2 separate regions of the Homo sapiens genome follow, and region 1 is linked to region 2. The links come from fine-mapping of genetic effects on gene expression. Tissue or cell type: lung. Region 2 holds a variant in brackets; the other region holds the start of a gene. All regions are shown on one strand. Distances are between the middles of the regions. Region 1 holds the start of PAOX (polyamine oxidase). Region 2 overlaps TUBGCP2 (tubulin gamma complex component 2).

Region 1 (2,901 bases), 80 kb after region 2:
GGTGGACAGCTGGCCCTGCTGACCCGGGATCCGCCCTGGGTTCCCCATGGCCTGGAGGCAGGAGGAGATGGCCACTGCATCCAGCGTCGCCTCCTGGTGCTGCGGGCCCCTGACGGACAGAGGACGCTCGACCCCTGCCCGCCACCGCCCAGGGAGTCAGCCCGACTCCCAGGCACCCGCCCCTCTCCCTGCCTGGAGCTCAGCTCGCGGGGTTGGCTAGGGAGTGATGGGGAGTGGAATCCAGCGACACCAGGTCACCCTTCCGGGAGCCTTTTCTCCAGCTGGGACGAGAGGGAATCAAAGGAAAGTAAGACACGGCTCAGGAGGCCCACGCCGAGAGCGAAGAGTGAAGCTCACGCTGGCAAACTGGAGCGCGCGGCCCCTCGGCAGAGGACCGGGGCTCAGGAGGCGGGGACGCGCCTGAAAACAGGGCGGGAGCCTTTCCAACCCCCGCGGGCTGCGATGCAGCAGAAAACTCGGCCGCCTGCACCGGGGATTCTCCAGAAACACAGGCGTGCCTGGGTGTGCGCTCAACTTCCCGGGCGAGGGACGTTTCTGCACTTGCCCTCGGCTTCTGAACTTTGTACTTTGCGAGTGTACTTTGTACTTTGGTCCTGTGTCCCTGCAGCCCTGTGACTACACGCGCACACGCAGGCGCGCGCACACGCGAACTGACGGCTCGCTGGCGATGCTGGAGGCTTTCACAGCCCCCCTCCGGACGCGTTAAGCTCTCCCAGGTCCCACCCCTGACACCGTGGCACCCCCAGACCCACTGCGCCCTCGCACTCGACGCGGGTCCCTGGGGGAAGCGCTCGCTGCGCCCTCGTCTCCCTTGGAGGAGACACTGGCCCGCCCGGCCGGCCGGCTTCTCCCTCCATGGGGACGCTCGCGCGCACCGCCCGGCAGCGCGGGACGCTCCCTGACGCCTGTCCTCGCGGGCCCTCCCACGCGGGGCGCTTCCCTCTGAGACCCGAGCCCAGTCCGGAGGCTCGCGGAGGCCGAGGCGCACTGTGGGGCTCGGCCCGGCCCCTTCCCCGCCCCTCCCCGCCCCTCCCCGCCCCTCCCCGCGCCTCCCCGCGCCTCCCCGCGCCTCCCCGCGCCTCCCCGCCCCTCCCCGCGCCTCCCCGCCCCTCCCCGCGCCTCCCCGCCCCTCCCCGCCCCTCCCCGCCCCTCCCCGCGCCTCCCCGCGCCTCCCCGCCCCTCCCCGCCCCTCCCAGCGCCTCCCCGCCCCCTCGCTCCGCCTCCGGCCTCCTCCGAGAGCTCCAGACCTCCCGGCTACTCAGAAGCCCTCGGACTGCCCGGACCGCGCGATGGAGTCGACCGGCAGCGTCGGGGAGGCCCCGGGCGGACCCCGGGTGCTGGTGGTGGGCGGCGGCATCGCGGGGCTGGGCGCGGCGCAGAGGCTCTGCGGCCACTCCGCCTTCCCGCACCTGCGGGTCCTGGAGGCCACGGCCCGCGCCGGGGGCCGCATCCGCTCGGAGCGCTGCTTCGGTAACCGCCCCTCCCGGAGCCCCTCCCGGAACCCAACCGGCTGCGCCCGAACTCGCCGGCCCCAACCTGCCCTGCGCGCAGCCGACCTGCCCGGCCGCCTCACCGGGCTCCCCGAGGGAATCCCCGCTCGCTTAATCCGCCAGAGTTCACCGCCCCGAAACTCAGGGCTCAGAGTTAGTCAGGAGGGCGCCGGCCAGGGAAGGCGACCTACGGCTCCACAAGGCCGCCCTGATTCTGCCCCACGGGGGCCCCCCCAGCCCCGGGGTACGCCCACCCTGCGCCCCTCCCTCTGGTCCACACCGCCCGACAAGTGCCCTCCTGCCCAGGTGCTCCCCTTAAACTGGGTCTGACAGGGCCCTGCCCTGGGGGACCACAGGGCCCTTGGGGACAGTGTGGTACATCCTCCTTGGGAAGGCCAGCGTGGGCGTGGCCCAGGAGAAGGGCTCGGGGTGACCCTTCTAGGAAAGGGACCTCCAGGTGGCATCTGCTGTCCCCTCGCAGGTGGCGTGGTGGAGGTGGGCGCGCACTGGATCCATGGGCCCTCCCGGGGTAACCCCGTCTTCCAGCTGGCTGCTGAGTACGGGCTGCTGGGGGAGAAGGAGCTGTCCCAGGAGAACCAGCTGGTGGAGACCGGGGGTCACGTGGGCCTGCCCTCCGTGAGCTACGCCAGCTCCGGGGCCAGCGTGAGCCTCCAGCTGGTGGCGGAGATGGCGACTCTGTTCTACGGCCTGATAGACCAGACCCGGGAGTTCCTGCACGCTGCAGAGACCCCGGTGCCCAGCGTCGGGGAGTACCTCAAGAAGGAGATTGGCCAGCACGTGGCCGGCTGGACAGAGGATGAGGAGACCAGGAAGCTGAAGCTGGCCGTCCTGAACTCCTTCTTCAACCTGGAATGCTGTGTGAGCGGCACCCACAGCATGGACCTGGTGGCCCTGGCACCCTTTGGGGAGTATACCGTGCTGCCGGGGCTGGACTGCACCTTTTCTAAGTGCGTGCCTGAGCCCCTGCCCCGCCAGTCCTCCCACCAGGCTCCCCAGGGCACCGGGGCTGGCTGAGCTCCGCTCTTGCTTGGGTATGGGAGGGACAGGAGACCATTTGTCCTCCCCATTCCGACAGACTGGTTGCTCCTTTCCCTAGTTTTGCTCATTTAAGCCAAAAAAGTTATTTCTGAGAGAGAGTGTTTAAAAGAAGGAAAGGTAAGGCTGAGTGCGGTGGCTCACGCCTGTAATCCCAGCACTTTGGGAGGCTGAGGCAGGTGGATCATGAGGTCAGGAGTTCAAGAACAGCCTGGCCAACATGGTGAAATCCCATCTCTACTAAAAATACAAAAATTAGCCGGGCGTGATGGTGCATGCCTGTAATCCCAGCTACTCGGGAGGCTGAGGCAGGAGAATTGCTTGAACCTGGGAG
Region 2 (2,901 bases):
TGGGGAGCCCTAGCCCCTCTTCTCAGGAGTGCAGGTCCTGCAAGGGCCCCCCTGGGAAAACATGAGCACCAGCAGTGGGAACCACGGGAGAGGGTGCACCTAGGCACAGAGCCGCTGTTTCAAAGGAGGGCGCCCTGTGAACAAGCTGAATTGCTTCTTTCTGGCAGTGACTAGGTCTGAACACCACTTGATGGGTGAAGACAGGCTTCAGCAACAGACATGCATCCTTACCCTGCCGGAGAAGGGCCCCAGCGTGACAGGATGGCTCCTGACATGTGGTCAGAGAGCCTGCCCTCCTGCGCCAGTGGCCGCCAGAGGCTGATGGGGTCGGCCTGGGCTGGCCCAGCTTTCGGAAGCACTGACTCCCACTCAGGGCTGGTCAGGGACACGGGCAGATGCAAACTGTCTCTGCACGTGGCAGTAAGACCCAGTCTTCTGCCACGGCTGAGGGAGACGTGGACAGAGGCCTAGCACCATGTCCAGCACAGAACGTGCCCAGCAAGAACCGGCTGGGTCCTTGGGAGCCGCTGCACTCAACACGCACCCAGGAGGCTAGGACGCCTCAGGGACACAGCTCCAAAGGGAGTTTAAAGGTCACAAAGGCAGGAACGTGGCAGCTCTAATGAGAGAGACTGGGAGATGACTTACGTCAAAAGACCAGGGTAGGGCATAAAATCAAAACCAAGAGCAAGTAGCAAATACAGAAGGAATAATAAAAATTACTGTATTTTCGAGAATCTTGAAAATATAATGATCTGAAAGCATTCCCTCAAAATTGTCAAAAATTGGAGGAGGGAAATGGGGAGTCAGGATTGGGTAGGCTCAGAGTCACGTGGCCACCTGGCAGCACAACTCCCACGTGGGTCAGAACCTTGCTGCTATTGATTCTTGTGGTCCAGAATTCTTGGTTAAAAAAAAAACTAAACATATAGAGCTAGGTCATGATCAAGCATTAAGCCTTGGCCTCTCTAAGGGATTCATTTTCAATAAATGACAGAGAGACATGTCCTTCCAGCAGGGGCCCGGCACAGCACTGAGTGTGGGTGCCTGTGGACGCCACGGACACAGGACCTGCTGCAGCATGGAGCCTGTGGACAGCCATGGACGCAGTACCTGCTGCAGCGTGGAGCCTGTGGCCACGCTGCCAAGCTGCTTCCTCAGTTCCTCAAGCTCCTGCATGGAGATCTTGGAGGCCGCGGCAGGGACGTTGATGCTGGTGGTACTGCTGCCCACAGCAGCGGCTGCAAGCTCAGCTCTTTCTTTTGCATTCTGTTGTAAGTACTGCAGAGTCTGAAAACATGTAAAACTGTGTGTTCACACTGGGCCAGCACCTCTTTGGCCATAGGGGGAGAGTAGGGACGACACCACCAGGACGGCTCCCCAACCCTGACAGGCACCCATTAATAGCAAAGCGACGCGTGCGACAGGCAG[G/A]AACTGAGCGTGACACATGCGGGAAGCTCAAAGTGCCCCAGAGGCTGCTTCTCATGTTTACACCCAACATGGGTTATCTTTCATTCTGATTCACCAAAAATTTCCTACATGGCCTAGAAGCGTTACTGGTGTGAGCGAGGAAGAGCTGACAGGAAGATGGCGTGGAGTGAGCAGGAGACGCGACCCCACTCCCAACATGGGCCGTACGGGCGCAGTGTGGCACGTGGCATGGGCACCTACCTCTTTGTCTTCCGTGAGCTTTGACAACAGGTACACCAGCGGGTCAAGGTTCCTTGTATTTTTAGATTTCAGTTCATCATATTTCTTTAGAAAGTCTTCTGGAGTACGAGAAAACTCTGCAATTTTAACCTCAAAAGCACAAACATGAGTGATTTAATGACGGTAATTAATAAAGCACTGTAAAAAAAAACCTTTACGAAAATTGAACACAATAAGCCAATGGAATTAAATTGGGTAGGTTAAATAATTATCCCTCTGAAATAAACTAACAAAACTCATCTCCATATTGTGTTAAACTTATCCATGTTTTGAGCTAGGCAGTGGCTCATGACTGTAATCCCAGCACTTTGGGAGGCCGAGGCTGGTAGACTGCTTGAGTCCAGGAGTTCAAGACCAGCCTGGCCAAAATAACAAAACCCCATTTCTACAAAAAGATTCAAAAATTAGCGAGGCGTGGTGGCACTTGCCTGTGGTCACTACTTGGGAAGCTGAGATGGGAGGATCACATCAGCCTGGGAGGTTGAGACTGCAGTAAGACAAGATCGTGCCACATGCATTCCAGCCTGGGTGACAGAGTAAGACTCTGTCTCAAAACAAAACAAAACAAACCTTATCCGTATTTCCCATTATGGTTCCTTTCCTTTTGTGCTTCTTCGTATTATTTTAATTTTTTCTAGAGACAGGATTTCACCATGTTGCCCAGACTGCTCTCAAACTCCCAGGCTCAAGCCATCCACCTGCCTCGTCCCAAAGTGCTGGCGTTACAGGTGTGAGCCCCTGCGCCCGCCCTTTTATGCTTCTTCAGGTTTGTACTGGAGAGTAGCGACTTACACTTCCCCCCAGTAGTTTATGCGTTCATTGTATACATTTCACTGTATTCCCTTTTATGCTGCTTCAGGTTTGTACTGGAGAGTAGCAACTTGCATTTCCCCCCAGTAGTTTATGCGTTCATTGTATGCATCTCACTGTGTTCCCTTTTATGCTTCTTCAGGTTTGTACTGGAGAGTAGCGACTTACCTTTTCCCCCCAGTAGTTTATGCGTTCATTGTCTGCATCTCACTGTATTCCCCGCAGTAGTTTATGCGTTCATTGTATACACCTCACTATGTTCCCTCTGGAATTTGTTATTATGTGCAACCCTAGGGGTTATGCTTTTTCTTTTGGACGGAGTTTCGCTCTTGTTGCCCAGGCTGGAGTGCAATGGCGTGATCTAGGCTCACCGCAACCTCC

Evidence for each region. PIP is the estimated chance that this variant, and not a neighbour inherited with it, causes the effect.
Region 1: PAOX starts here. The variant in region 2 is the best candidate, but not a certain one, in a credible set for the expression of PAOX in lung (TOPMed, PIP 0.78).

The regions. Positions count from the first base shown.
Region 1 is chr10:133,378,007-133,380,907 of GRCh38, forward strand. It overlaps PAOX (polyamine oxidase), which reads left to right and starts at 1,256. Exons shown (of 7, transcript NM_152911.4): 1 at 1,256-1,491; 2 at 1,993-2,479. The coding sequence starts at 1,311. It overlaps LOC124902563 (a long non-coding RNA gene), which reads right to left and starts at 885. Exons shown (of 2, transcript XR_007062395.1): 1 at 1-885. RefSeq lists an enhancer at 349-848 and silencers at 822-1,081, 1,182-1,591.
Region 2 is chr10:133,298,314-133,301,214 of GRCh38, forward strand. It overlaps TUBGCP2 (tubulin gamma complex component 2), which reads right to left. Exons shown (of 18, transcript NM_006659.4): 3 at 1,672-1,800; 4 at 1,114-1,290. Among named protein-coding and RNA genes, the nearest start is that of TUBGCP2, 9.1 kb to the right of the region's middle. The variant G/A (reference allele first, on the strand shown) is at 1,432.